Linked DNA regions of Homo sapiens. The protein of the gene in region 1 interacts with the protein of each later gene in a pairwise test. Each region holds a gene or a part of one and is shown in the gene's direction. Other genes may lie near its edges.

Region 1 (3,500 bases):
GCCACCAAAAGCAGGGAGCCCTAAGGGAGCAGTTACAGGTGAGTGGAGGGTGTGAAGTTCCGTCCTGTCCTCTGGAGAATGTTTCTTTCCTTCTTTTTCAGCACTTGCTTGGGTTTCCTCCCAAAGGTTCACATTCAGACCATAGGGATCCTCGTATCAGAGAAAGCTGAGTTACAGACAGCCCTGGCTCACACTCAGCATGCTGCCAGGCAGAAAGAAGGTGGGAATCTGGGCACCCCATCATCCTTCAACCTGGCACTTTGACAGGCCTTTAGGGGGAGTCCTTTGGGCCCCATCTCAACCTCTCTCATTCCAGGAGAGTCTGAAGATCTGGCCAGCCGCCTGCAGTATTCCCGGCGGCGTGTGGGAGAGTTGGAGCGGGCTCTCTCTGCTGTCTCCACGCAGCAGAAGAAGGCAGACAGGGTGAGTCCAACTGCCTGCCCCGTCCCCTGGCATACTGGCTTCCCAGATGGAGGAGTGAGCCTAAAGGTCCCTTCTGCAGGGTTGACTGTCCTGCCTAGAAGGCAGCATGGGCCATTTATCACTGCTTTTGTGTGTGGTTGCTAGAGGCATCCTGGGGCTGAGTCAGCTGCTGTGGGTGAGTTTGGGGGCACTGTGGGGAGTGAACACTGGACGCAGAGCTCGGAGGCCAAGTGCCCGCTGTGCCGTTACCTGGCTGTGGCCTTGGTCAAGTCCTAGGTGGGGGAATATGGTACTTGTACTGTGAAGGTACAGAAGAGTATCTTTAGTATGTTACCATTTGTGTAGAGAGAGGGAACGTGTGTGTGTATGTGTACCTATGTACTATGACAATATACATAAAACGTGTCTGCATGGATTCATAACAAACTCAGGAGAGAGGAACAGCACGGCTGGAAGATATTTCCCTTCTGCCCTTTCGGAGTTTTGGACTATCTGAATATATCATCCTTTCAAAAACTGAACAAAAGATAATTTCCCCCTTCCTATTTGTGCCCCCACCCTCGGGGAACAAATGAGCTTAGAGAGTCAGATATACCTGGGTGTTCAAATCCGAGCTCTGTCTAAGTGATCTTAGGCAAGCACTTAACCTCTAATATTCCGTGTTGTCCATCTACAAAATAGAGGTAATAATAGTAACTGTCTCATGTGGTGGTTATGAGGATTAAATGGGATTGTTAGCATGGTGCCTGGTGAAGCATTCAATAAAGGTTCAAACAGTGGTAGTAATAATGATAATAACAATAGCAATATTATCTGATCTCTCTGGGCCTCTGTTAGCCAGCTGTAAATTCGATCTTGGCCAGGTGTGGTGGCTCATGCCTGTAATCCCAGCACTTTGGGAGGCCGAGGCAGGTGGGTCAACTGAGGTCAGGAGTTCGAGACCAGCCTGACCAACATAGCAAAACCCTGTGTCTACTAAAAATGCAAAAAATTAGCCAGGTGTGGTGGCGTGCCCCTGTAATTGCAGCTACTTGGGAGGCTGAGGCAGGAGAATTGCTTGAACCCGGGGGCGGAAGTTGCGGTGAGCTGAGATCGTGCCACTGCCCTCCAGCCTGGGTGACAGAGGGAGACTCTGTCTGAAAATAAATAAATAAATAAATAAATAAATAAATAATAACAAAAATTAGCCAGGCATGATGGCGCATGCCTGTAATCCTAGGTACTCAGGAGCCTGAGGCAGGAGAATCACATGAACCCGGGAGGCAGAGGTTGCAGTGAGCCAAGATGGCGCCACTGCACTCCAGCCTGGGTGACAGATGGAGACTCCATCTCAAATAAATACATATATACATACATACGTACATACATAAATTCGCTCTCTCTCCCTGTTCCTTCCACCCTTACCAAGTCCTTTTTTTTTGAGACGGAGTCTCACTCTGTTGCCCAGGCTGGAGTGCAGTGGCACCATCTCGGCTCACTGCAAGCTCTGTCTCCCGGGTTCATGCCATTCTCCTGCCTCAGCCTCCCGAGTAGCTGGGACTACAGGCACCTGCCACCACGCCTGGCTAATTTTTTGTATTTTTTTTTTTTTTAGTAGAGATGGGGTTTCACCGTGTTAGCCAGGATGGTCTCGATCCCCTGATCTCGTAATCCGTCCCCCTCGGCCTCCCAAAGTGCCAGGATTACAGGCGTGAGCCACCGCACCCGGCCACCCTTACCAAGTTTTTTTAAAAACAAATGAGACCAGCCGGGTGCCGTAATCCCAACACTTTGGGAAGTTGAGGCGGGCGGATCACTTGAGGTCAGGAGTCAAGACCAGCCTGGCCAACATGTTGAAACCCCCTCTCTATTAAAAATAAAAAAATTAGGCCAGGCATGGTGGCTCACGCCTGTAATCCCAGCACTTTGGGAGGCTGAGACGGGCGGATCACAAGGTCAGGAGATCGAGACCATCCTTGCTAACACAGTGAAACCTCGTCTCTACTAAAAATACAAAAAAATTAGCCGGGTGTGGTGGCGGGGGCCTGTAGTCCCAGCTACTTAGGAGGCTGAAGCAGGAGAATGGCATGAACCCGGGAGGCGGAGCTTGCAGTGAGCCGAAATTGCGCCACTGCACTCCAGCCTGGGCAACAGAGACTCCATCTCAGAAAAAACAAAACAAAACAAATTAGCCGGACATGGTGGTGCACGCCTATAGTCCCAGCTACTCAGGAGGCTGAGGCAGGAGAGTCACTTGGACCAGGGAGGCAGAGGTTGTGAGCTGAGATCTCACCACTGCACTTCAGCCTGGGTGACAGAGGGAGACTCTGTCTCAAAAACAACAACAGCAACAACAAAATGAGACCATGGGCTTGGAAATGCCTTGAAAACATGTCAAGTGTGATTGAGAGTGAGGAAGTGTTACTGTGGAGTACTTACTGTAGCTGTTGTTACTGGTTGGCCAGCTGCTCCTCTGCCTGCTATATCCTGACTTAACCTTTCTGTATTTACAGTACAACAAGGAGTTAACCAAAGAGAGAGACGCCCTCAGGCTGGAGTTATACAAGAACACGTAGGATGGGGGATGGTGGGATGGGAGGTCTGGGGGCCCTCAGCATGGGTGGTGTGCTGGGAGGTGGGGGGTACAGGTAAGCATGATGAGGTAGTCATAGAGGTGTGCATGTGTGCCCAGCAAAGCTCTAGTGCCAGCTGTGCCACTGACTCATGGTGTAGCCTTGGGTAACTCGTATCTTTTCTCTGGCCTGTACATGTGACTTTTGATTCCTGGGGTTCCTTCCAGTGCCACAGTTCTGTGGTTGTGGGGCAAGGGTAGAGGGTGGATCACCAAAGCAGTCCTTTCTGTTCTTCGTTCATTCCTTTCTCTACTGCCTCTGGCCATAGCCAAAGCAATGAGGACCTGAAGCAAGAGAAATCAGAATTGGAAGAGAAGCTTCGGGTCCTAGTGACTGAGAAGGCTGGCATGCAGCTTAACTTGGAAGAATTGCAAAAGAAGTTAGAGATGACGGAACTCCTGCTTCAACAGGCAAGAGGCTGCAGCCCCATGGGTGGTGGGAGCGCCATCCAGCTGGGGCCATGGT
Region 2 (4,312 bases), on another chromosome or scaffold:
GAAAATGGGACAGATAATGTTTCCTGTCCTCGTCGATGTTCCAGGAGGCACAATCTCTTGTTGGACAACCGTTTGTGAGAGGATATAACTGTGGAAGTGATAATTAAGTTCTAGAATGATAAGTGTGATGCAGGGGCTGGGGTGGTGAGAGGTTGAAGAAAGCACTTCAGGCAGCATCCACAGCCTGGGCAAAGGCCCTGAGGCCTGAGGGACCAGGGAGCTTATGAGGAAGTTGGTGGAGTTAGAGCGGTTCTCATGAGCGAGAGTGTAGGACCAGAGGGGTGGGCCTGGTTTATGTCTGTGGCTATGGGCCAGTTATTTCACCTCTGTGCCTTCCTTTCCTCATCTCTAAAATGGGGATACGAATCTTTCCGGGTGGCTCTGAAGATTGAGTGTGGCATCATAGGTAACTGTTGCAGGCACCCAGGTGTTGACTGCGTGTCCATTGTTGTTATAGTTGGTTGAATCTGTCCCATTAATTCTCCTTCCCCAGGCAAGACTCGTGGCTGTGACCCATGGGCCTCTGAGGAGGCGTTGTAAGTCCGCCCAGCTCCCCACTTGCTGTGCTCTCACTCAATGCGAAGGGAACCAAGGTACCAGGGCCAAGTGGGTCCAGACATCCACACGGATTCTGAAAGGGCAGGTCAAGCAGGCACGTGGGGCCCAGGTTACCCCTTATTCCCCGCTGTGGCATGGGAAGCTGGGAAGGGCTGGGGGTTGGGGTATCATGGGATGTGCTTCCTTAACGGCTCCTTTGTGTCACTGCCAGACTTTGTCCAGCCATCAGCCACGGCCTCTCGACAGCACCAAGATGGAAGTCAAAGGTCAGCTGATCAGCTCTCCTACCTTCAATGCCCCAGGTCGGTGGCTGCTTCCCCTCCTGCTGCCTCCTCCCCTGCTCTGAATCACCACCTGCTTGCTCGGGAAGAGTTGGTCCCTTGCCCCACAGCTGCTCCAGAATGCCCTGGCTGTCCCACTGATCTTTGCTCCCTCTGTGTCCAGCTGCCCTGTTCGGAGAGGCTGCCCCCCAGGTGAAGTCAGAGCGTCTGCGGGGGCTGCTTGACCGGCAGCGGACCCTGCAGGAGGCCCTGAGCCTGAAACTTCAGGAGCTCCGCAAAGTGTGTCTCCAGGAGGCGGTGAGGGCCTGGCCCTAGGGGTATCAGGCGGGGAGGTTGGGAGGAGGTGAGGAGCTGGGGCCCCTAGGTAGACAGACTTGGGTGGCAATTCCTCAACCACTTGTCTTGGCTGTAGATTCCCTGTCACCTACTTTCTCCTCAAAGCTCAGCTTAGATGTGTTAGAATGAATGAAATAGGCTGGGCGCTGTGGCTCACGCCTGTAATCCCAGCACTTTGGGAGGCCGAGGCAGGTGGATCACCTGAGGTCGGGAGTTCCAGACCAGCCTGACCAACATGGAGAAATCCCGTCTCTACTAAAAATGCAAAATTAGGCTGGGCGCGGTGGCTCACGCCTGTAATCCCAGCACTTTGGGAGGCCGAGGTGGGCGGAACACGATGTCAGGAGATCGAGACCATCCTGGCTAACACGGTGTAACCCCGTCTCTACTAAAAATACAAAAAATTAGTCAGGCGTGGTGGCGGGCACCTATAGTTCCAGCTACTCGGGAGGCTGAGGCAGGAGAATGGCATGAACCCGGGAGGCGGAGCTTGCAGTGAGCCCAGATTGCGCCACTGCACTCCAGCCTGGGCGACAGAGCAAGACTCTGTCTCAAAAAAAAAAAAAAAAAGCAAAATTAGCTGGGTGTGGTGATCCTAGCAACTTGGGAGGCTGAGGCAGGAGAATCGCTTAAACCCTGGAGGTGGAGGTTGCGGTGAGCTGAGATTGCGCCATTGCACTCCAGCCTGGGCAACAAGAGCAAAACTCCACCTCAAAAAAAAAAAATATGGTAATACAGGCCCACTGTTGACAATTTCAAATCCAACAAACCTCAGAAAACAGGTTCTGTCCAAAATTTGGCAGCACAGTCTGACCTGAACTGGCACAGGCTGATCTGTAGTTTCAGTTTACCCCTCTTACTGTGAATGCCCACAGTGTGCCGGAAATAATACTACAGCTCAGACCACGCAGCCACAGCCCCTGAAGTGAGTTATATAATACTTAGGATCTCGATGGTATCACCTTTATAAAAACAAAACAATTCTGGATTCCAAAGCAGGTCTCCCTGCCTCCCATGCCCACCACCCCAGGGGTTTGGGCCACTGAGGTTTGGGCACACCTGCCTAGTGGAGATACTGGTAGGAGGGAGGGGAGTATCGTGCGTGGTTGCTGAGCAGGGCCAGGCTCCTGGTAGGACTTCTGTAGCTTCTGGGATCATTAATGCTTCACCCCATCCTTCCAACTAACCCTTGGTAGTCTCTGACCCCTGCCTCCCACCAGGAGCTGACTGGCCAGCTGCCCCCTGAGTGCCCACTAGAGCCTGGTGAACGGCCCCAGTTGGTCCGCCGGCGGCCCCCCACAGCCCGCGCCTACCCTCCACCGCACCCCAACCAAGCACACCACTCCTTGTGCCCTGCTGAGGTGAGCAGATGGGTGTGGAGAGCAAGAGGGTGGGAAGAGGGGACAGGTACAGAGGAGTAGCCAGGAGGAAGGTGTGGGGAGGGGGCTTGTGGCCAGGTGAGGGAGAGGCTAAGATGAGAAGGAAAAGGGCTTCTGGAGTTAGTTTCCTGTGATGAGGGAGGATGCTGGTCCCTAACTGTCAGGACAGGCCTCCAACCCTAAGGAAGATGAACAGACCCAGCCCTTCACCAAGAGAGGCCCTGACACGCCCCCTCCCCGGGGTGAATAGGTCTGAATAGGCTGCAGGAAGTGCAGGCCAGCCTCTACTGGGTTTGGCCCCGCCAGGTCCCTGTTCCTGGCCATTTCCAACATTTGGGTGGGCCCAACAGGAGCTGGCTCTTGAGGCCCTGGAACGCGAGGTGTCAGTGCAACAGCAGATCGCGGCGGCCGCCCGCCGCCTGGCCTTGGCCCCTGATCTGAGCACCGAGCAGCGCCGGCGCCGGCGCCAGGTCCAGGCAGATGCACTGAGGAGGCTGCATGAGCTAGAGGAGCAGCTCAGGGATGTCCGGGCCCGCCTTGGCCTCCCAGTGCTCCCGCTGCCCCAGCCACTGCCACTGTCCACGGGGTCAGTGATCACCACCCAGGGAGTCTGCCTGGGCATGCGTCTTGCTCAGCTCAGCCAAGGTGAGCATCCCCTGGTGAGGGTGGGAGAGTGGACACTGGCAAATGGACGTGGTAGGGCTGGGATGGGTGACTGGCCGGTGAAAACCGGGAGGTAGGCACAACTCAAGTGGCCCAACCCGTGAGAAGAGTTGTGACAAACTGGCTTACCGGAAAGGACAAACTGTGGGGGACTGATGAATATCTGCCAGGACAGTCAGGAACCAAACTGGGGTGGTCTTGGGCTCTGGTAAAAGCAGATTCTTGGGACAGGAACAGGATGAGGCGGAAACTGGCCAGAAGGTGGCCCAAGTAGAGGTGCCCACCCAGTGGTGTAAGGGGGCAGCACCCAGGCCTGGGAGTGAGAGGCCCACTTCTCCCCCTCTCACCTGTAGAGGACGTAGTTCTGCACTCAGAGAGCAGCTCCCTCTCAGAGTCTGGGGCCAGCCATGACAACGGTGAGGACTCCTATCCCCCAAACCTGCCCCCGACTCCTACGTCCCTTTAGCCCATCCCCTTTATTCATCCGACCACATCCTGCATGATCAGCCCATCCTTTGATGCCCAGCCCCTCCTGTGCTGCTTCAGCTTCTCCTTAGCCATGCTCCATCTTCCTATGGGTCCCCCATCTTCTTAGCCTCACCCCACCCCAGCCCCACAGCCCCAGAACCTACTTGTCAGCCTTAGTTCCTCCTCAGCCTGCTTAACCTGTCCCAGCACTTTGCCCCTCCCCATGGCCTTGCCCCCCAGCCTGTCCTGCCCCCTCTGGGCCCCCCTCATTGAATTCTATCCCACTTGCTCTCTTCCACTCAGAGGAGCCCCATGGCTGCTTCTCTCTGGCCGAGCGCCCCTCACCACCCAAGGCTTGGGACCAGCTGCGGGCAGTATCTGGGGGGAGCCCTGAGCGGCGAACCCCATGGAAACCACCTCCATCAGATCTTTATGGGGATCTGAAGAGCCGGCGGAACTCTGTGGCCAGCCCCACCAGGTGAGAATGAGCCCCTCCTCCCCTCCGCAGGAGCTGGGAATGGGATAGCAAGCCTGGGCTGGCAGAGGGTCTGCTGGTGGGTACAGTCTCTAACCTAGGCCTGCCTGTCTCTGTCTAGCCCCACACGCTCGCTGCCCAGGAGTGCCTCC
Region 3 (3,448 bases), on another chromosome or scaffold:
GCGTTGTGACCTAGGACAAGTACCTCACTTCTCTGAGCCTGTTTCCTCCTCTGTAAAATAATGTCTACTTCACAAGGCTGTTTCAAAGGTTAAAAAAGATAGCATATGTAAACTGTCTTAGCTCAGCGCTTGACATTTCCTAAGTGTGCCATAAATATTAATCTCTTTCCTTACTCCCAGCTCCAATACAGCGTAACAGTGCTTTAAAATGTATGTCCTTCATTTCTCCTTCATTTCTCAGTCACCTTTGTCTCTTCCCTAGGGCATATCCCCAAATTCTTAAACAAAAAAAAATGATTTTTTTCCCCTTCATCAAACTTTTCACTGGCTCCCTTAGCACCCAGTAGAAGGTCCCAACTCCTTACAGAGTCTGGGTTTTCATGTCCCTGTTTGCTTACACAGCTTAATCTTTTGCCACTTTCCCCCTCACATTGATTAAGGTAGCCAAGTTTAACTATTTACACAACTATTCACACAAGTTATTCTCTGGGCCTGCAGCAGAAACATGATTAACAATTTTAATGCCCAGAGTAAACAACAGAAATTTTTCTTAAATTAAAGGAATAGTGTGAAAATGCTGTAAGTACAGAAAATGCAACCTCCATTCCAGTAGAACAATTTCCTTTGCCTTGTCCTTGGCTCTCCAAAACTGTTCATTTATTGTGGTGTCTTTTAGATTTTAGTGCCCTGGGACAAAGATCTAATTTCCCCACCCTACTTTTGACTCTATCCTGGACTACCTTTCCTCACCTCTATCTCTCTCAACCAGACTAACTCTTTATTCCTTAGACTTGATGATGCATCCCTCTTTAGAGATCCAAAGACACCCCAAGCATCCCCCTCTCTCAGCAATAATCACATTGTATAGCAGTGTTTTTCAAAGTGTGGTCCTCACACCGCCTGTGTTAGAATCACCTTTAGTGTTTGTTAAAAGAATTGATTTTGGGTTCCCACTCCTGACCTAACCAGAATATCTGAGAACATAGGCAGGAATTTACATTTTTGACAAGCTCCTCATGATTCTGATGCACCAAAAATTTTAATGAATAATCATCTTCCCTACTAGACTGAACACCTTGAGAGGAAGGACTGTGTCTTTTATTGTTGTTATATTGTTAATACCTGGCACAGTGCTTGGAACATTAGCTTGGCTAATGTTTATTGAATGAATGTATGAATGAAAAAATGCATTATGAAAGTTTCCTCTTGTACTCTCATGTTCGTAGTGATGTTTGTTACTTCCTGGGCAGAAAAGCTTGGTTACTACTCCATTTGAGCTGTATTAATTCTATTTTGCAGAGATATCAAGGCTCCTACATAATAAATGATCATTGTCCTCCTCAAAAACTCTTTGGCAGTTATCTTGGGGAAATGTCTTTGGAGCATATGGCACCATTGTTTTCAGTAACATTTCAGTCTTGTCAAACTTTGTTGTTTGAAGGTGGATTTACATTTCGGTTATAGCCAAAAATCACTCAAAGCTAAGCCTACTTAAAAAAGTGGGGAATTAAACTGGGTTTGGAGTAAGCAATGAAGTTTGACTCTGAAGTCCCAAATTCTGAGTCAAACAGTGAAAAATGACTTCTAAGATACAACATGGTGACAAAGTACTTAGTGGGGGTGCGATGGGCCCCAGATATTTACTTCAGTTAACTTGGCTTTTATAGAATCCTGGCAATGCCATGGACCTTAAGAGAAGTAATTGGCTACCTCTAGCTAAACCCAGCTGGACAAAGAGAATAGGACTTGTATTTAACATTTTCAAAGAAGGTGACTGCATAAGCTTTTGTTGTTGTTGCTCTACTCAACCTGTTCTCCACAACTGTTTCTACCAGAAGATTATTTTATGTCTGCAATTTATGCTTGTTTCCACTTTTTATATTGTCTTATTGAAGAAAGCACAAAAATAATCAAAAATAAAGTAAAACCTGTTTTGAGAGTATGAAAGAAATTTTAATGCCACATTGAGGTTCTGGCTACTTGTAAGTAAGAGTAACTGCATCTGGATGTGTTTTTATTATACAATTCTATGTGTATCTTTAGATGCAGTGAAATTCAGATTGCAGCAAAATCACTTATCTGTTCTTTTCGGCTAAAACACTCTAGGTGAATTTTCTAAACTTCCATGGTTTACATATTTATATATGACTACCAAGATGGAGCAATCCACGGATGGACTTTTGAATAAACTCAAATATTTGATACTGCTTCCTCCAAGGAATGGAGAGTGTCAGGCAGGTAGGTAAGAACCACTCCTACACTTATTTCTAGCTCCTGAAGCCAACTGCAGCCTTGGAGCCAATGGCTGTATTTGGCTGTGTGTTACAGGTTGGCCAAACTGATTGCCATCAGGTCAGACAAAACTGCCTTTTATGGTGTAGTCTGCCAGCTTCAGACATATGCTGTATTGTTGTTATTGGCTAGACTATTTATTAGACTATTGTTGGACTATTTTTTATCAAATGCTTTACCCCACGCCTGTTTGTATTGGGAGCTCTGGACCAATAGTGTCTCTCCTAGTGACAGAAATATGAGCATCTGTGGATTACACAGCCTCATCCCTCTCTACAATATTCCAGCCCATCCAAAATGCTATATTATGAATTAAATAAATATATATGTATTCATGAATTCTTTGTTGTCTCTCGCTGGAGTTGAATTGGGGGAGGACTAAAAGGAAGATGGCCGTGGATTCTCCTGGAATTGGGTAAGTGACTAGGGGAAACCAAGGATCATATAATAGGTAGTGATCTGGACAGAAAGGACCCAGGGGGTCTGGAGCTCAAAATCCAATCAAGAAGACTTTGATTTCAGGAGCATGATATGGTCAAGAAGACCAAAGAAATGAAGATATAGGGTTCAAGGAAACATGACACATTCAGTTTTAGAGATTGGAGCAGAAGTTGAGAATTAAAGAACAAATAAAATCCCAGTGCTGGAACCCATTGATTAAGATTAGGGTAGCACCAGAAGCAAGTGAGCTGACTTACTGTTAAAACAGCTGGCCTGCAGGAGGAGACTGGGAGGAAGCCAGGAGGTCCCTCAGGGCTAGAATTGGGCATATCTTAATCAGATTTGTAGTGGCACTAAGACTAAAAGGGATCATGCGATATGAAGTGAATGAAGCAGGGCAGTCAAGGGCGGCAGCTAGAGAAGTGACTTGAAACAGGTCATCAGACCAGGGGCCTATAAGAACTACAGCCCAAAGGTAAAAGGAGTAAAATTCAAAGGAGAAAAGAATTTGGAACATTGTGTGTTTAGTGGTTTAATTGAAGAACAACCTAGGCAAATACCAAATATGAGGCTATTACCCATAGCTAAAATTTTAATATTTTGTGTGTGTGTGTGTGATGATGTTTGGAAAGGCCATCTCCATTTAATGTGCGAGGACAGGGCAGATATGGGATTCTTTATGTTTCCCCATCTGAGAATAGAATTGGTCCCAGAG
Region 4 (4,796 bases), on another chromosome or scaffold:
GCCCGTTTTCCGTGCCTCTCTGCGCTGGGTCCCCCATAGACGCTGGGCTGGGGTCTGTGGAGAGGGTGGAAGTCCCCGTTCTGGACTCTAGGATCGACATCCTGCTTGAATGTTTGGAAGAGGGTCCCAGCTGAATTAAATTCAAAAAGAGGCTTTCAAGGAAGAAGGAGGTGTCATCTTTGCAAAATTAACGACCCCCAATCCACGCAACCCCTACGCCATCCCAAGGCCGGCGCCCTGCGAGGTGGCGGGAGGCCAGGGTCCCGGGTTTACCCTCGGGTGACTGCCCAACGCGGGCTGGGATACAAGCGGACCCTCGGAAGGGTTCCTTTTGCAGACTGGCGCAGTAAGGACCCCATGCCGGGAAAGGTTGGGAGGTGGGGGACCCAGGCCAAAGCGCCAAGTATCGCGAGAGACCCCCTGCCCCCGCGCAGTGCCCTAAACCCCCCTCACACCCCAGCGCCCCTGCTGGCTGCGCGCGGGGCCCGGCCGGGTGGGGCGGACAGGGAAGGGGGGGCGAGGGTGACCTCAGCGGTTCCGCCGCTCCGGGAAGTCGCTCGGCCCGCCCCCTCCGGCCCCCGCCCCGAGTTTCGCTCTCTCTGGGGCGGGGCGAGCGGCGGGCGGCGCTGGGCCAGCCAAGTTGGAGCGCGCCCCGCCCGGCGCCCTCGCCGTCCCCGCGCCCTCCCCGCCGGGGCGCGCTGCCCGCAGCTCCACGCGCGCCAGGGCCGCCCTGGGGAGGGCGCGCGCGCGAGCGGCGACCGGAGAGGAGCTCGGGGCGGCGGAGGTGAGCGCTGGGGGTGGGCTCCCGGCTCTGCCCGCCCCGCCCGCCCGCCGGCCCTCTCCCCGCTCCCCGCGGCCGCGCTGCCATAAATGGGGCCGGCGGCGGCGGCATCTGGTGGGCCGGGCGGCAGCTGGAGGCGGCGCGGAGGCGTGGGGCGGGTGGCGGCGCAGCCACCCGGGCGTCGGGGACGCCGCGAGCGGGCGGCCGCCCGGGAGTGAAGTTCAGGAGCGCCCGGGCGGGGACGCGCGCAGGTTTGCGCGGCTCCGGCTCCTGCGCCTGAGTCCCGGGACCCGCCCCCGCGGCGGAGCTGCTACTGTTTACTTTCGATCGAGTTTTTCCTGCTCGGGGCAGGTGCCCGCGGCGGCTCTGGACGGGAGGTTGCGCGCGTCACTCCCGCGCCGCTCTTTCCGCGCTGCCTGCAGCCGGGAAGGGCGCTTCGTGGGCGCCTCCAGGCGCGCTGACGGGCGTCCCGTTTGTGCCCAGGTGATGACGGCGGCGGCATGGAGTTCCCTGAGCACGGCGGACGGCTGCTGGGCCGCCTGAGACAGCAGCGCGAGCTGGGCTTCCTATGCGACTGCACCGTGCTGGTGGGCGACGCGCGCTTCCCGGCCCACCGTGCCGTGCTGGCCGCGTGCAGCGTCTACTTCCATCTCTTCTACAGGGACCGGCCCGCGGGCAGTCGCGACACGGTGCGGCTCAACGGCGACATCGTCACGGCGCCCGCCTTCGGCCGCCTACTGGACTTCATGTACGAGGGCCGCCTGGACCTGCGCAGCCTGCCTGTGGAGGACGTCCTGGCAGCCGCCAGCTACCTGCACATGTATGACATCGTCAAGGTCTGCAAGGGCAGGCTCCAGGAGAAGGATCGAAGTCTGGACCCGGGGAACCCTGCCCCTGGGGCAGAACCTGCTCAGCCACCGTGCCCCTGGCCTGTCTGGACCGCGGACCTCTGCCCAGCTGCCCGAAAGGCCAAGCTCCCCCCGTTTGGGGTCAAGGCTGCCCTCCCTCCTCGAGCATCTGGGCCTCCTCCCTGCCAGGTCCCAGAAGAGTCAGACCAGGCCCTGGACCTGTCGTTGAAGTCTGGCCCAAGGCAGGAGCGGGTCCACCCACCGTGCGTCCTCCAGACACCCCTCTGCAGCCAGAGGCAGCCAGGGGCCCAGCCACTGGTGAAGGACGAACGGGACTCACTGTCCGAACAGGAGGAGAGCAGCAGCTCTAGGAGCCCCCACAGTCCCCCGAAGCCACCTCCTGTTCCTGCAGCCAAGGGCCTGGTGGTGGGCTTGCAGCCGCTGCCCCTCAGCGGAGAGGGCAGCCGGGAGCTGGAGCTTGGTGCAGGGCGACTGGCGAGTGAGGACGAGCTGGGGCCTGGTGGGCCCCTCTGCATCTGCCCGTTGTGCAGCAAGCTGTTTCCCAGCTCCCACGTGCTGCAGCTGCACCTCAGTGCCCACTTCCGTGAGCGAGACAGCACCCGGGCCCGGCTCTCACCCGACGGCGTGGCACCCACCTGCCCGCTCTGTGGGAAGACCTTCTCGTGCACATACACACTGAAGAGGCACGAGCGGACACACTCGGGTGAGAAGCCCTATACGTGTGTGCAGTGTGGCAAAAGTTTTCAGTACTCCCACAACCTGAGCCGGCACACCGTAGTGCACACTCGAGAGAAGCCGCATGCCTGCCGGTGGTGTGAGCGCCGTTTCACGCAGTCCGGGGACCTCTACCGCCACGTCCGCAAGTTTCACTGTGGCCTCGTCAAGTCCCTTCTGGTGTGATGCATCCCTGTGGGTCCTGAGGGTGGGGTGGAAGGGAAGGGATGGGCCCTCCCAGGTGGGACACAGCATGGGGTGTGAAGCCTGACCAGGTGGAGGTCCCTGCTTGGGCCAGATGGCTCCACCCTCCTGGCAGAGAGAATGCTGCCTCTTCCTGGAACTTGGCCTCAGACTCGGTAACTTGGGCAGCCTTCCTCCCACCTTGCCTCTCCTTTCCCCTCACTCTCCAACTCATTCCGGCCCCCAGGCTGTGCCCTGCCTAGGCTGTGACACTATCTTCCTCTCCCGTCCCCTCCAGCCAAGTTCTGAGGGGTGTCCAACCAGCACCTGGCTCTGCCCCCGTTTCTCCGTGTGAGATGGCACATCCATCTCCCGGCCCGGGACTTTCCTGACCACCTCTCTGGCAGGCTTGGGGAGGTCTTCATGAGCCTGGCCCCACGCTAGGTGAATTATTCACATGTCAGAAAAGTTGTTGGTGTGCGTCCCAATGGGGCGCTGGGAGGGAACAGGACACTCCTGGGGAGCGGCAGCAGGAACCCCTGCCAGGAAGGCCTGGGGCACAGTGAGTGCCAGCAGGGGCCATCTGGGCACAGCTGGTGTCTCGGGGTGGGGGGGGGGGTGCAGCCCCAGCAGGGATCCTAAGGCAGCAGGAGTAGAGCCAGCTAGAAGCTGAGTGGCTGTGGCATCATTGTCACTCGGGTGGGACGTGGGTCCATGAGAGCGTGCAATTATGACCACACTGTAACTTTGAGCAGAGAAAGTGGGAATTTGGAACTGGATTCTCTTTAGAGCCAGGAAGAGCCTCCTGAGGCGGCCAGATGTCTGCTGGTGGCCGCCCAGCCACATGCTTGTCTGCCTGAGTGCAGGTCTAGGAAGCCTCTGGGCATCCCCCAGGGTGGGGTCTGGGCCGCTGAGCTGTGTGCTGCTGCTGGGCCACCGTGGGCCTTACCTTGACGGTCACTCTGCCTGCTAGGGGGTTTCCCTGGAGCTGTGGGCATTTCCGTGCACTGACTGAGCAGAGGCAAGGGCTGCCCTGTCCGCCAGGGGCAGGGTTTGCGGGCCTTCCTTTCCCCACGGCGAGGCATGGGTGAAAGTGGCCATGGCGGCAGGGTTAGGGGCAGGTGAGGAGTGGGAGTCGCAGCACCCTAGGGGCCTCCATCCGCAGCCTTGGGAGACTGACGCTCCTCGAACATGAATAGAATGTGGAGACCACAACCCCCACACATGTCGTTGGTTCAGGTCGCCCTGCTTTGCCTGCCTAATGGAGCACATCTTGCTGCCAGAACCTCACTGGCCTCTGGGGGTCGGCAGGTGCAGAGCCACCTGGACGCCTGGAGACCACCTGGGATGTTTCCTCTGTGACTGGGAATGGCCTTGACAACAGAGTCCAGCCAAGTCTACGTTATTTTCTCATCTCCTGACAACACTGGATGTCATATTTATTAGTCAGCCTGGTCTGGAGTGAAAGACCGTCCCTAGCGCATCTCCCACGCGCCCTGGGCTCCTGGTGTGCTGGGTGCCAGCCTGGGAGCCCAGCGCTTCTGGGTGATGCCCCAGGGCTCAGAGGCCCTGGATGGCTTTGGTCTCGAGACAGCTGGGGGAGGGGCCCTGCTTCTGATTGTCCTGGGCCCCAGCCCCCACCTCTGCAAGGGATCGGTGTGATGTGCTCCATAATCGGGTGGGGGGTGTGTGTGTGTGTGTGTGTGTGTGTATGTATGCATGCGTCTGGCACATGGCAAGGCCCAAGCCAACCCGGCACCCCGTAGATGGGCAGCTACACTGCCACCCAAGCACGGAGATGTGGCCGCGGCACTGGGTCCCCCAGTGGGTCCCATGGGGGAAGAACTTCCCTTTGCTGGGGTGGGCAGCCTGCCCTGAGCTATCAACACTGGATTTGTTGTCTTCTGCACAGCTACTGTGAAGATAACGTAAGGAGAAGTGGTCAGTTTTCATTTTATAACTGACACAGTTGGGACAAAATATATACGTGTACATATATTTAAGACACTAATTGTGTGGGAGAGTTTAGTAGAGGCCTGTGCAGACACAAGGCAAACAGCGTCAGCAGCGTGGGGGTCTCCTGGGCCAGCTCGGCACCTGTGGGTGCTCTGACCCTGGGGGTGGGGACAGCTCCGTGCTAACCCCAGCAGACAGTTGTTGGTGCACAGTGTCTAGGAGGCGTGGGAATGGGTGCTGTCTTCCTCTTTTCACATCATGGCGACAGTAATAAAGCCCACCTCCAGTGGAAA
Region 5 (4,312 bases), on another chromosome or scaffold:
GATTCTCATTCTTTAGAAAAGAATGTTTTTACTCTTTAGGTTATGTTTTTTGGAAGTTAGCCACTCTGGAAATATTAAAGATCATTTTTAAAAAGCACTTCTCCCCATCAGGATAAAATAGGAATAGAACGAACAGAGGGCCACCCAGCAGGAAAGTTGTTTCACTCTTCAGGCTTCAGTCTGGGTCTGCTGACTACCTAGTGACATATCGGCTTTGCTGCTCCACTTACCACCTTAATGACTTACCAAGGTCACTGCCCTGAAGATACTGATGAAAATACATGGCAAAGGCCATGTATTTGACATGGAAAGGATGAGATGGTTAGATAGATTCTGGTCCTCATGATATTGCTGTACTAAATTTAGTACTTTTATAAAATTGCAGAGATCAACTTGCTTCAAAATAGAAATGATGGGAGGGAATTAAACTACTTTTCTTGCCTTCTGTTTATTGCATTCCATGTGGTTTGCTTATTACATGCCCTGGTTATAACTTGGCTGATTTTGCCCTTTCTTTTCTGTTTTTCCATGCGGCTGTCATTTTGTGTGTAATGCGACTGTCTTGCCCTTTTCTTGGTCTGTGGATTGCAGTGGCACCCTGTGCTGCGCACACTAAAGAACCGCATTGAAGAGAACACTGGCCACACCTTCAACTCCTTACTCTGCAATCTTTATCGCAATGAGAAGGACAGCGTGGACTGGCACAGTGATGATGAACCCTCACTAGGGAGGTGCCCCATTATTGCTTCACTAAGTTTTGGTGCCACACGCACATTTGAGATGAGAAAGAAGCCACCACCAGTGAGTATTCTCTTTTTCTTATGCTCTTCCTGCCTCTTATTAGTCTGTGGAAAAAGTAGAACTCCTAAAAGCTTCTACTTTCAGATTTCGAGCATGGGAATACACATTTTGTTGATGAAACATTTTCAAGTGACTACTTCCCCATGGTTAACTTTTGACTTCCAAAGTGCTCCTTCATTCATTTACAAGTCCAACAAGAATTGGCTGCCTTATGCTAGGTGCTGGCGGCTCATTTCATTGATGATAAACTCCCTGTCCTCCTGGAGATACAGTCTAGTTGGGGTAGATAAATATTGCCTATTACTCAAATAATTGCAATTGTGATCAATGCTGTGAAGGAAAGCCTTAGAAGAATGACTCAAGCTAGTGGGAGGCTAAGGAAGAGGAAGGAGGCTAAGGAGGACGTCCCTGAAGAAACCTTTATTTTAAGTGTTCTTCATGGTAATATGGCCACTTTTCTGAAAGGGAGCATTCACATATGTTTGTTCCTTCTTAGCCTTCTCCTGAAATACAGGTGAATCTAACTCTTTCAGAGAGAGGAAACTCAAGCCAGATTATCAGAGATGGTGATCTGTCCACATTCAGGTAGAAAAACAGTGACCAAAAAATTAATAACGATATAATAACTTCAGTTTCCACCCCAGCGCTTACCTCAATTATGTGACATTTGAGGAATACTAGGGTTATTAATTTTTTAAAAAATCAAAACTGTAGTCCCTTACGACTAAGAAAGATAGTAATGCCAAGAAAAGAGCCAATTATTTTATTTTCAGTGTTTGTGTCTCTTCCTAACCAGCATTCCTGATCATTCAGCTTATAATGTTAAACCAGACCCAGTCGGTGTGGAAGGCCAACCAACAGGCTGTTTTTTTGTTTGCTTGTTTTTTAGAGAGGGAGTCTCACTCTGTCGCCCAGGCTGGAGTGCAAGTGGCACGATCTCGGCTCACTGCAACCTCTGCCTCCCCAGTTCAAGCGATTCACTTGCGTTAGCCTCCCGAGTAGCTGGGATTACAGGCGTGTGCCAGGACCCCTGGCTAATTTTTGTATTTTTAGGAGAGATGGGGTTTTGCCATGTTGGCCAGGCTGTTCTCAAACTCCTGACCTCAGGTGATTCGCCCACCTCGGCCTCCCAAAGTGCTGGGATTACAGGCATGAGCCACTGCACCTGGCCCAGGCTGATTTTTGAATAGACCTAAGCCAGACCACATCATTATTAGTTCTTGTGTCAGTTCTTCGTCAGATATACTTCCATAAGAATACAGTTAACAGACTGAGTGTTTTCCTGGTGTGTATTGGGTTTCCATGCATGGTATTTTTAAAGCATATTGTGTGATTTTGCATATATGCCATTAAGTACCTTTTGTTGGTATAATTTCCATTGATTAGGCTTTCTTTGGTTATGTTTACATAAAAAGTTTGATCATTGTTAGGGGATTGGTAGTTGCCGGTGTTTTTTTAAGTGAACTTGCTCTCTAAGCCTTCAGTTACATTGGCAAGCAGCCTTCTCATATACCAAGGAGTACCACTTGAGAATCAGACAAACCAGCTTTTGCTATATTTGTTTTAGATATGATTATACTTCTGTACACAGCTTTCACTCAGTTAAATACCAAGTTCACATGTGTGAAAAATTCATCCTGCCCTTAGTAAGACTCCTGTTGCATAAATAGTAGAGAGACACTGTATCAGTCTCATTATTTAAGTTCAGACCCTCTTCTCAAGCCGGATGTATGGAACCTCAGCTTGTTGCCAGGAGTGGTCCTGAGACCGGGGGCCGTAGCAGTGAATGAGTAAGATGAAATTGTCTTTCTCCTCCTGGAGCTCATCTAGCATATGCTAGCACTGCGCCTTCCTCCTAGAGTTATCCTTCTGGCCTCCTGATTGGCAAATAAGCTATAGTATATATAGCCTTTGGTATAATAATGGTTTTTAGTTCTTCACACTTACTTTCTTTGTTGCTCAGTATTTAAGTATTCAGTTACTGTTTCTTTACACACATATATTCACCACCACCATGCCCCTTTTTAAAAATTTGGGCCTATTTATAGATTTGAAGCTTAAGAATTCCCTAAGTATGCTTTTTGGATAAATCATTTTACTGTACAAGCAATTTCCAAATATTATGCATTCACAATATTCTGGTGCCCAGAAATACCCCGTTTCTTCTCCCCTCCAGAGAGCTGAATTTCTTCATTTTCTCATATAAAGATATGACATATGGTGATCAAGAGCTATTTCTTGGTAGTACACATCAGTTATGTTATAGGGTAACATGTAGATGGAGAGCATAACTACTACATACATTGTTCCTGTGGGCAAGCATTTGGAACAGCGCTTTATCCTGCCGTGCCCCATGCTGTAGCTTTCTCTTCTCCTCAGCCTTCTTGGAGCCTATTTTGATGAACATGAATGATAATACAGGCCATGAAATACTCAGAAGTGGTAAAGTCCACATAATTGTCTGCCAGTGGCAAGGGAATCTGCGCTATGACGATGGTAGCTGATTTGATTAAAATACTGATCCAATAAGTAAGAAAATTTGCCTGAGATTTTAACAAAGTTGCCTGAGGAAAGGGATTTGGGAAGAAATATAAACATGTTGGTACTTCAGGTTGTTGACTGTAGTAAGTTTTGGCTTCTGGCCTAGTCTTAACTATGATTGAATTTCATGCAGTTTTTGTATATCATCTCAATTCTGGCTTTTGTTTAAGATTGGGAAATTGAATATTAATATGTTTGAAATTATAATCACACATGAGTAAAAAGTGACCTTTTTTCCCCAGAACCTGTAAAGTCCATTTTTGTGTAAACAGGATACAAGTTTAAACTTTTGAAGATTCCTTCAGGTCTCACTAACGGATTTCCAAAAACCTGGGGCTCTACAAATGTAGCTAAACTCGAAGTGCAGAACCCTTTCTTTGAGTTGATGGCCTTGGAAATATACCTTAAAGTGCATCATCTTTATCTTATAAATAATCCTTTTTTCCAAAGGATTGAAAGGAAGCGATTATTGCACATTTTTGTCTACTTTTCTTTATAAACTCAGGTGATGAGAACATGACTCATGATTCATACAGCCCAAGGTAAAGCATAATTTAAAAAGTAAAAATTAGGTTAGTCTTCTGTGTGGGATTTGTAGGAGTCTGACTTCCTGTAACTCTTAGAGACCTATCTCAGTGTGCTACTACAGATTGTAATTTTCATGTCTGTCACCGAGACGTTCAGGGTTTATTAGAGGTTGTGGGAGGGAATCTTTCAAACTCCTATTAGCTTTGACCCATCGGAGGAGAAGTTAATGCCTATTTGACTTGAGTCACAGTTTCGCATCTCAGGCGGACATGGAAGAGTCATGAGATTTCCTGCACTTTGTTCAAATGTGCAGTTTTGAGACAGAAAAGCGTCTGTTTTGGGCCACTTTCAAAGAGAAATAGTCTTGATTTTTTAAAAATTCAAATTCCTCCACCCTTGCAGCAGCTGTTTATTTTGTAGTCTGGCACCTTGAGCAGATCTC
Region 6 (4,312 bases), on another chromosome or scaffold:
AGGATTTACGCAGAGTCATTTAGGTTGAATGCTTGATTTCAGTGCTGGTAGGGACTGTTCAAACTCATCTTTAGGTTATTCAAATGTTGGAGCAGCACTTTTTCCCTTTGAGTAATGGAGATGACTTTTCCCAATAGAGCAGCCACCAGGTTAGTAAGTAAAACAGTTAAATGTTAAAATAAGGTGGCCTAATTTTAAAAATCTCATAATTTAAAAAATTGAACTGTGAATTTTTTGAAGTCACTTGGCATTTTTTTTCCCTTAAGACATGTTTGGCCATACTTATTTGTATAAGATACCCACCTGTTCATGCTGCTAAATGATGTAGATATACAAAATATAGAACCATTGTGTAAGATAGGAACTGGTCTCCAGTTTCTGGATTAATCCTTCGCCTAGACGTTTTGCCTGCATGGAAATCTTTGCAGTTGTTTTGTTGTGTGGCCAGGACAGAAATTTCTTAGGAGGTCATGTGATGATTTGGTTTACTTTCGGAGTGTGGGGATCATAAAGAGCATCAGGAGTTGTCATAGCATACCTGAGTCTGTAGTGTGGCTCTCTGCATATCCGGAAACTAGCCAAGAACCAGGAAGGGGGCAAAAAGTCCACTTCGCAACCAGAGTAGATAGCATGAAAGTCCAAGAGAATATTTCAGGCCCTCTCTCAGAATGTACTTGCTCTTATTCTAGACACAATCCTAACATTTAAAAAATTTGACAAATAATCCGTAGTGTATTGGGGGTAACACATTTAGAATGGGGTGAGGGACTGCTGTAATCAGTAGTAAAAAGTGACCCCTGACAGCCTGACAACTTGGAAAGAGACAGAAAAACTGTAACTTTAGACAAGAATTGGGGCAGAAACTTTGAAGGCTTGGGAATATTAGGGTGGGAACCCTCAATTGACCTTGTAGGCACCACTCTATAATAACATAAACAAATAATTGCTATTTACTGTTGTTAACGGTGAACTATGGAAATAATACATTTTTAGATACACTCTTTAAGAAGAGAAGGAAATGTTCAATATACTTTGGAAATGTTTACACCCAGAATAATTAACCTCTGAGCTGTTTTGATGTGTAAGGCTCTTACCAATTCAGAAAACTAGGCTGTGCAGAATGACTCATTCATTGGATTGCTGAGATTTCCTGTACCGAAGTCATCTTGTATCACTTTATTTTGTAATCATCAATTTAAAAAACCCTCACATTTTGTCTAGTGTTTAGAGATTTTAAAACTTGGTAAATGGGAACCAAATTCATATATGGGACTCGATCTCAGTATAATAAAAAAAAATTACTAGTAATAGTATGAATATATCTCTCGTTTTATGCAGGACTGATTTTAAATAGTGAGATATCCTGCGCATTAAACATGATTTATTTGAGATTTGTGGGATGTAATTTGGTGCTTTCATTCTCTTAAATTTATTGAGAATCTAGTGATTCACTGGTTCATCCTTTGCCTCAGGCTCATGGTCATTGGAGATTCCAAGAAATGATTGAATCAGTCCCTATGGATTTATTTGTATGTGTTTTTCTTTTAACAGATATGGTCATGATCAGTTCTCTAGTACAGTCTTGTTCCCAGGATCCTTATAACCTTAGATAAGTCTCTTCAGCTACTGCTCCAGTTGAACATTGAGACTTCTGGCCAGTCTCAGTTCCAGGACTAGCAGGTCATTTGATACCTACAAGTAGCAAAAATGCAACCCACTGACTTTACCTGAAGTTTCCAAAAGAAAAATAGACTTTGTGGCATTGTTTATTTATGGCTTTTGTCACTTGGACTTGAAATATATTTTTCATAGAGATTTATAAGTTAATCCACAAAAACGTAACCCACAAAATATACACTATTTGTGTATGTTTGTGGTAAGTAAATGACAATAAATTCCTATACTTATAGTTAAATACAAGAGAAAAGGGTATCCAAAATGGTGATGTTTGAGACAAAAAAATAATTGTGGAGCTTGAAGACTCTCTCTCAGAATGTAATTACTCTTATTCTAGACACAATTCTAACTTTTTTAAAAAAATTGATAATCCATAGTGTATTGGAGGTAACATATTTAGAATGGGATGAGGGGCTGTCACCCTCACCCCATATTTGTGTAAACTTGCTGTCATTAGAGGGTGGGTATGTTGGTTCCATGATTTTTATGGTTTTGGTTTCTGTAGTACAAGTATGCCATCCTCCACCCTGCGTTACTTTTTAAGGTTACAAATGGCATAAAAAGAAAGCAGCAGAAGAGGTTTTCCTGATGATATGGATAAGATCTTGTTTGTAGTTTTTTCATTCATTTATTCATTCCACAAACATTTTCTGACTGCCTGCTATTTTCCTGACCCAGTGTTATGCAATGGAAATGTAAAGGTAACTTAACTCTAGTCCAGTGCCTAGTACAGATAGATACTCTTAGTGTGGGGTAAATGACTAATATAATATCATAGGTGTTGAAGCATAGATATGGGGATAAAAAGTATGAGGAGAGGCCTACTGGGAGCATTGTGAACCTAGCCACTTATTGCCTGGGGAATCAGGGAAGACTTCCCTGAGGAGGAGATACATTTGAGCTGAGTCCTGAGGGGCGAATAGGAGTTGGTTCAATATTTTAATATAAAAAGATTGTAAAGAGGGGTCAAGAAGGTATCTCCCATGCAGAAGATAGTGTTATCCCCTTTAATGTATGGGCCTACATGCATGATCCTCTGAGAGGCATGAGTGGAAGAGCCAGTTTAGTTCAGACAGTTTCCATTTTGGCCACATGGTGGCATTATCTTCTAAGGGCAGCTTGGTTGCTGTCCGCATTGGCATATGCAGGAGAAGGAAGGATGGAAATAGAGAAAAAAGTATTCTCCAGGTGCCCATCTATTTATAGTCATAGGAGGGCATAAGTTGTAGAAGATTTTTAGAGTACAGATTTTTAAATCAGCCTGGGCTAGTTAAATAATTTCTAAGCCTCAGTTTTCTTATCTGAGAAATGATGATTATAAAACCTTGTTATTGTCCGGAAGTTACTTGTTAATGATCCAGCAAGGATCTATTCTATCCCTCAGGTTTAAATTTGCCTTTAATTAATATAGAATTGATATGAATAATATTTTTCTAAATGATCAGAAATCTTTTCATTTAAAGGATTATGAAGAAGAGATTGAGGATGACTTGGAACCCTAAAAAGATATAAGTCTACTGGGACCCACCTTCTATGTTTTAGCTTTGTTTTTTCACTCTGTCTCCTAAAAATATGCAGCCCTGACCCAGTTTTCCCAAATAACTTATCAACACTTTTTCCTTCAGTTGGTGAATGTGAAAAGAAGAAATCATTTTGCTGAATGAAATATTTAGGGGCTTTATATATGAAGCACTTTTCACTTAGGGTTTTGTAATTTTCTTTGGGTCAGTCTGGGATGACCCTGCAGTTTACTGCTGCTTGTAAGTTGTAGCAGGTCACATATATTTGTACTCTTTGTTGTGAATAATTTGGGTTTGGTTGTATCGCCTGGGCACTCACGGCCTTCAACAATTGAGTATATGCTATAAACAGGCCCCATCAAAGCAAGTAAAAGGCAGAGAAACTTCACAACAGTCAAATTGACTTGTTTTTGTTTAAATAAACAAACGAGGACACAAGATGAGGGTTGAAGGGCTGAAAGTAACTGAAAACTTCCCAGACAGTCCTACAGAAGTCTAATTCTAGAGAGAATTGACAACACCAGAGAAGAGGGAAAATATTGCTTCTCCTTGACCCAAGGAGAAATTTGGAGGTTTTCATCTGTGGGTGAAGTGCTTTGTGTAACTCATTTGCTAGGAAAGGTATGGTGCTCGTAGAAATCTTTTCTTTTCCTTTTTAAAATATACAATCACTACTTTGAGATTTTAGTATGTTCCTTCCTTTTCATCTCTCCTGATCATTCCTTCCAAGGCCTCACTGAGCTCATCCAATTCACATAGATTAAGATGCAGAAGCAGACATCTCTTCTGAGCTATTTTTGCTTCCATTGAAGCTGCCTGAGGCAGGATTTTCCCAAAGAAAGCAGAACTTTTAGAACAGGGGCCTAGAGTCGAGGCTTGGGCCTTGCTCTGCTGCCTACATCCCAAGAGCCAGCTTGGAATTCAGAGTACCTGCCTGCTTTTATGTAGGAACATGGGATTCCCTGGAACCCGGAAGCTCATTCTATTGTTTTGTTCCCATTCCACATATCAACATTTTAAAACAGCTTTCTTGTCTTAGTTTACTAGGAAAAAGCAATCAAATGATTCAGTGGTTTCTTTTACACAGTAGATAATACAGTGCCATTGTAATGGTA
Region 7 (4,312 bases), on another chromosome or scaffold:
GACCCTCCGCCCACAGCCCATGCCCAGACCCTAAGCGCAGCCCTGTCGTCCACCCCTGGACTCATCCTAAGGCCCCTCTTCTCTGTGGTTGACACTCTTCAGACTGGCCCTGCCCAGATTGCAGGCCGCAGAACAGCCCGACAGGAGCCTCACTCACCAAGCATTTCCCTCATGATGTCGCGGCAGTGACTGCTGGGTGGGATTCATCCTGGGAGGCAGAGCAGGCGGAGAGGTATTCCCAAAGGCACTGCACTCGAGTCCTGCCACCACCCGGCTGCAACCAGGCAGACGTTACCAGCTGGTTGCGTCACTCCCCAGCGAGCCTGATGCTCCCTCTCTGCCCAGTCTTCCAGGAATCCACTGGAGTTGACACTTGAGACAGAACCCACGTTCTCCCTTCCTAGCAAAAGGTGTGGGGTATCCGGTTCTTTGAAGGTCGTAGAGGCAGTTGGGGTGTTTAGGACTACATCCTGACCCTGTTTTTGAGTCTAAAAGGCCCCTCCTGGCTGTGCCGAAGGGCCCTGGGGCTGGACTGATTGCGGGCCTGGCTCACTGTGGGCTTTTCCCCTGTAGTTCGCATTTCACCCCTCCCAGAAGGAAACCCACCACTGACTCTGGGGACAGGCAGTGCCCAGTATGGATGAGATTTGCTCCCCCTCACCACACTCCCGTCTCGTCTCAAAGATTCATACTCTTGTCTTTTTTATTTATTTTTTATTTTGAGACAGGGTCTTGCTCTGTTGCCCAGGCCTGAGTGCAGTGGCACTCAGCCTCGGCCTCCCAGGCTCAAGCCATCCTCCCACTTCAGCCTCCAGAGTAGCTGAGACTACAGGCTTGCACCACCACACCTGGCTAATTTTTTTGTTTTCTTGTATTTTTATTAGAGATGGATTCTTGCCATATTGCCCAGGCTGGTCTCGAACTCCTGGGCTCAAGGGATCCGCCCACCTTGGCCTCCCACAGTGCTCTGGATGACAGGCTTGAGCCATTCTGCACACGCACCCAGCTACCCTCTTGCCTGCTCTGTGTTTGGGTGGTTATGTGTTTATTGGAGGCAGTCAGTTTGAAACTAACTCATGGTGCAGAGGATGGAACCATGGAAGACTGAGCAGTCTGGATTCAAGTGTGGACCCCGCTCTGCTGTGTGAGCTTGGGCAAGTTACTCAACCTCTTTGAGGCTTAGGTCCCTTTTCTGGAAGAGGCCATAATAATAGTAGCTGCAGTATTGCCCTGGGGATTAAATGAGAGTGTGAATACAGAGCCGCTCACCTGTGCTGGGTGGTGTTCTGTGTGCGAGACTCTCTGGTCCCTGAAGAAGGGGTAATAGGGGCCCAAGTGGGAGTTGACTGGGCCCCTGACACCCCAAGGGGTGGGCACTACAAGCACTGAGCAGCCTGGACCCTGGGTTAGAGCGATTTTCCTGATCCTGCAGAGCGTCTTCACTTTTTAATACGAGGTGTGTCTGTCGGGCGCAGGCCCCCGCGTGTGCCCCATCTGCACCCCTGACCAGCTCTGACTCACTCCTCCTGTCTCCTGCCCCCAGCAATATGTCGGACGCCTTGGCCAACGCCGTGTGCCAGCGCTGCCAGGCCCGCTTCTCCCCCGCCGAGCGCATTGTCAACAGCAATGGGGAGCTGTACCATGAGCACTGCTTCGTGTGTGCCCAGTGCTTCCGGCCCTTCCCCGAGGGGCTCTTCTATGAGGTGAGGACACTACTGAGGGCTTTCTCAGACCCAGCTCGGAGTCTGCCCTCTATGAGCGGGTGGGCCGGGCTCCATGCAGTGGTCCCGACTGGTGACAGGGCCAGGTCTGGAGCCAGCCCAGAACCAGGCTTGAGCTCCTGCACGGGCCCATCCTTCACCTGTGAGATGTGAACAGCACCCCAGGTGCCCTGGGTGCTAACAGAGAGCCACCTTTCACCAGCCTCCTCTGGGCAGATGCTGGGCAGGCCCTGGGGGCAGGAAGAGCCTGCCCTGGTGGTGCTTGCCCTCCCTGGGGACTAGACAGTGAGCACAGCAACCGCATGGCCCACCAGCTGGTGCTGATGCCCTGGGGGTCAGGGTTCCCGGGGTGGGGTGCGGTGGTGCTCAGGGAAGGTGAGGTTTGGGCACACCTGAGGGGAGGGAGACATACTGGGCAGAGGGCACCGCATATGCACATACCCTGTGGTGGGAGAACATGGGGTGTATGGAGAGCAGTAGGAAGACTGGTGTGATGGAAGCCGAGGGCATGAGAGGGAGAAGGCCAGGAGCTGAGGAAAGGGAGGTGGATCTCGCTTGGCCCCACGGGCCTCTACGGAGCCATAGGCTTCCCCTCTGCAAGAGGCAGGAGCCACCTCGGGGTGTGGAGCAGAGGAGTCACACTATCTGCTGACATTTGAAAAGGTGACCTGGCCGGGCGCGGCGGCTCACGCCTGTAATCCCAGCACTTTGGGAGGCGGAGGCAGATGGATCACCTGAGGTCAGGAGTTCAAGACCAGCCTGGCCAACATGGTGAAACCCTGTCTGTACTAAAAATACAAAAAATGAGCCTGGCATGGTGGCAGGTGCCTGTAATCCCAGCTACTCGGGAGGCTGAGGCAGGAGAATCACTTGAACCTGGGAGGCAGAGGTTGCAGTGAGCCGAGATCGCGCCATTGCACTCCAGCCTGTGGGACAGAGCAAGACTCCATCTAAAAAAAAAAAAAAAAAGAAAGAAAAAAAAAAGGAGGCTTGTGGCCGCTGTGCTGAGGAGAGGATGTAAGGCGGGGCAGGAACAGAGGCTGGGCCAGGAGGCTGGGGGGACCAGGAGCTGAATTAGTGCAATCACCCAGATGAAAGTGAAGGGGCCCCCACCAGCTCACAGGAGCAGTCGTTAAATCATCAACAATCTTGGGAGCTGGTTGGGCAACAGAGTTATTGTTTAAAAATTAAATTATATCAGCGTACAATGGGATACAATTTTATTAAAAACAAAGGTAACAAATACTCAAAGCATACCACTTGCTAATTATTTTGTTCCACTTTACTATCGTCTATGCTGATGGGGTTATTTCTGTCCATTGTGCTGGTGTGGCCACTGCACATCTCCCCTCAAGTCCACATCGATGTCATGTTGGCAGCCAGGAGTTGGCCATGACGGGAATATTCACACCATGGACACTGGCAAACGCCCCACAGCAGGGCCTGCCTCTGCGCCCCAGAGAGCTGGCTGTTGAGCATTTACCAGAACATCACTTGTGCTTGTGGTGGCGGTGGTGGCCAGGGGTCAGATGCTGGCTCTGTTTCAAGGTAGAGCTGATGGGACTGGCTGGTGGATGGATGTGGGGCCTGTGGTCCGCCTGGCAGAGCAAGAGCCGCTGTTCCTCACAGTGTCTTCAGCCTCCTGAGGAATGCTGTCTAAGTGTAGAGGCAGCGGGAGGGGTGGGCAAAGCTCTAGGAGGGGTGGCCATATGCCCAGAACAAAGCCTCTCTCTCTCACACACAGCAGGTGCCCAGAAGATTTTCATTGCTGAAAGAGTTTAAGCCCTTCCTGACTCTACAGGTCACTGGGTAGGGCTATATCCAGTTTAGTCTAATAAGACACTCATTTTAGAGAACAGGGAAAAACCAATTAAAAAACAGAAAATACAATTGTTAGAGGAAAGCAGAGGCAGGCTTTGGCCCCGCTTGTGGCCAGCACAGGGGCCCTCGCTGGCAGCTGCCGCCTGGAGGGTGTGCACACTGGCTCCTGCTGGCCGCAGCCCTGAGCTCTTCCCACTTCCCCGTGCCCAGGCCCTTCCTGCGTTCCCTTCCTTCTGTCTCCTATACCCGGGTCTTCATGGCCTCTGAGAGAGCTGGATACTCCCACAGAGAAGGTATACGAAATAGGACCAAGTGACACTACACTTCAGACTGGATCTCATCCCTCCTGGCTTAAAACCGCCTCGCCCCCAGCCTGTTCTCCGGACCAACAGGGTCCAGATCCTCAGTAGACACCAGTGGCCCTTTGACAGGTGGCCTCACGGACCTCTCCAGCTTCCACGGGGGCACCTCCCTTTGCACCCCACCATCCCAAAAGGGCCAGTGTCCTCTCTGGCCAGGCCTGGGACCCACTGCTCCAGCCTCAGCCCGGCATGCCCCTGCCTCAGTGCCTCATCCCCTGCTGTCAGGTCCTGACCCAACAAGGGCCTGGGCTGCTCATGGGGATGATAGGTGGTTTGCTTGTCCTCTCTCTGCGACCCCTTTGCAGTTTGAAGGCCGGAAGTACTGCGAACACGACTTCCAAATGCTGTTTGCTCCGTGCTGTGGATCCTGCGGTAAGGCCGGTGACAGTACACATCCTGGGCTGCCTG

What was found.
Region 2: the proteins of GOLGA2 (region 1) and CCDC120 interact in binary tests that used the Homo sapiens proteins (3 or more experiments, as listed by UniProt).
Region 3: the proteins of GOLGA2 (region 1) and MID2 interact in binary tests that used the Homo sapiens proteins (3 or more experiments, as listed by UniProt).
Region 4: the proteins of GOLGA2 (region 1) and ZBTB42 interact in binary tests that used the Homo sapiens proteins (3 or more experiments, as listed by UniProt).
Region 5: the proteins of GOLGA2 (region 1) and ALKBH3 interact in binary tests that used the Homo sapiens proteins (3 or more experiments, as listed by UniProt).
Region 6: the proteins of GOLGA2 (region 1) and SAMD4A interact in binary tests that used the Homo sapiens proteins (3 or more experiments, as listed by UniProt).
Region 7: the proteins of GOLGA2 (region 1) and LIMS2 interact in binary tests that used the Homo sapiens proteins (3 or more experiments, as listed by UniProt).

Annotation. Positions count from the first base shown.
Region 1 is NC_000009.12:128,262,508-128,266,007, reverse strand, and holds part of GOLGA2 (golgin subfamily A member 2), read left to right. Parts: coding exon 1-38; intron 39-126; coding exon 127-220; intron 221-316; coding exon 317-423; intron 424-2,915; coding exon 2,916-2,974; intron 2,975-3,303; coding exon 3,304-3,445; intron 3,446-3,500. UniProt on the Homo sapiens protein: Peripheral membrane component of the cis-Golgi stack that acts as a membrane skeleton that maintains the structure of the Golgi apparatus, and as a vesicle thether that facilitates vesicle fusion to the Golgi membrane.
Region 2 is NC_000023.11:49,061,466-49,065,777, forward strand, and holds part of CCDC120 (coiled-coil domain-containing protein 120), read left to right. Parts: intron 1-493; 5' UTR 494-576; coding exon 577-639; exon of another isoform or gene 640-652; intron 653-769; coding exon 770-860; intron 861-1,002; coding exon 1,003-1,136; intron 1,137-2,395; coding exon 2,396-2,536; intron 2,537-2,904; coding exon 2,905-3,199; intron 3,200-3,570; coding exon 3,571-3,633; intron 3,634-3,988; coding exon 3,989-4,163; intron 4,164-4,281; coding exon 4,282-4,312. UniProt on the Homo sapiens protein: Centriolar protein required for centriole subdistal appendage assembly and microtubule anchoring in interphase cells. Together with CCDC68, cooperate with subdistal appendage components ODF2, NIN and CEP170 for hierarchical subdistal appendage assembly.
Region 3 is NC_000023.11:107,929,007-107,932,454, forward strand, and holds the end of MID2 (probable E3 ubiquitin-protein ligase MID2), read left to right. Parts: 3' UTR 1-2,631; downstream 2,632-3,448. UniProt on the Homo sapiens protein: E3 ubiquitin ligase that plays a role in microtubule stabilization. Mediates the 'Lys-48'-linked polyubiquitination of LRRK2 to drive its localization to microtubules and its proteasomal degradation in neurons.
Region 4 is NC_000014.9:104,799,917-104,804,712, forward strand, and holds ZBTB42 (zinc finger and BTB domain-containing protein 42), read left to right. Parts: upstream 1-1,184; 5' UTR 1,185-1,281; coding exon 1,282-2,550; 3' UTR 2,551-4,796. UniProt on the Homo sapiens protein: Transcriptional repressor. Specifically binds DNA and probably acts by recruiting chromatin remodeling multiprotein complexes.
Region 5 is NC_000011.10:43,900,925-43,905,236, forward strand, and holds part of ALKBH3 (alpha-ketoglutarate-dependent dioxygenase alkB homolog 3), read left to right. Parts: intron 1-591; coding exon 592-801; intron 802-4,312. UniProt on the Homo sapiens protein: Dioxygenase that mediates demethylation of DNA and RNA containing 1-methyladenosine (m1A). Repairs alkylated DNA containing 1-methyladenosine (m1A) and 3-methylcytosine (m3C) by oxidative demethylation. Has a strong preference for single-stranded DNA.
Region 6 is NC_000014.9:54,569,744-54,574,055, forward strand, and holds part of SAMD4A (protein Smaug homolog 1), read left to right. Parts: intron 1-4,312. UniProt on the Homo sapiens protein: Acts as a translational repressor of SRE-containing messengers.
Region 7 is NC_000002.12:127,654,794-127,659,105, reverse strand, and holds part of LIMS2 (LIM and senescent cell antigen-like-containing domain protein 2), read left to right. Parts: intron 1-889; exon of another isoform or gene 890-1,076; coding exon of another isoform or gene 1,077-1,144; intron 1,145-1,543; coding exon 1,544-1,703; intron 1,704-4,209; coding exon 4,210-4,276; intron 4,277-4,312. UniProt on the Homo sapiens protein: Adapter protein in a cytoplasmic complex linking beta-integrins to the actin cytoskeleton, bridges the complex to cell surface receptor tyrosine kinases and growth factor receptors. Plays a role in modulating cell spreading and migration.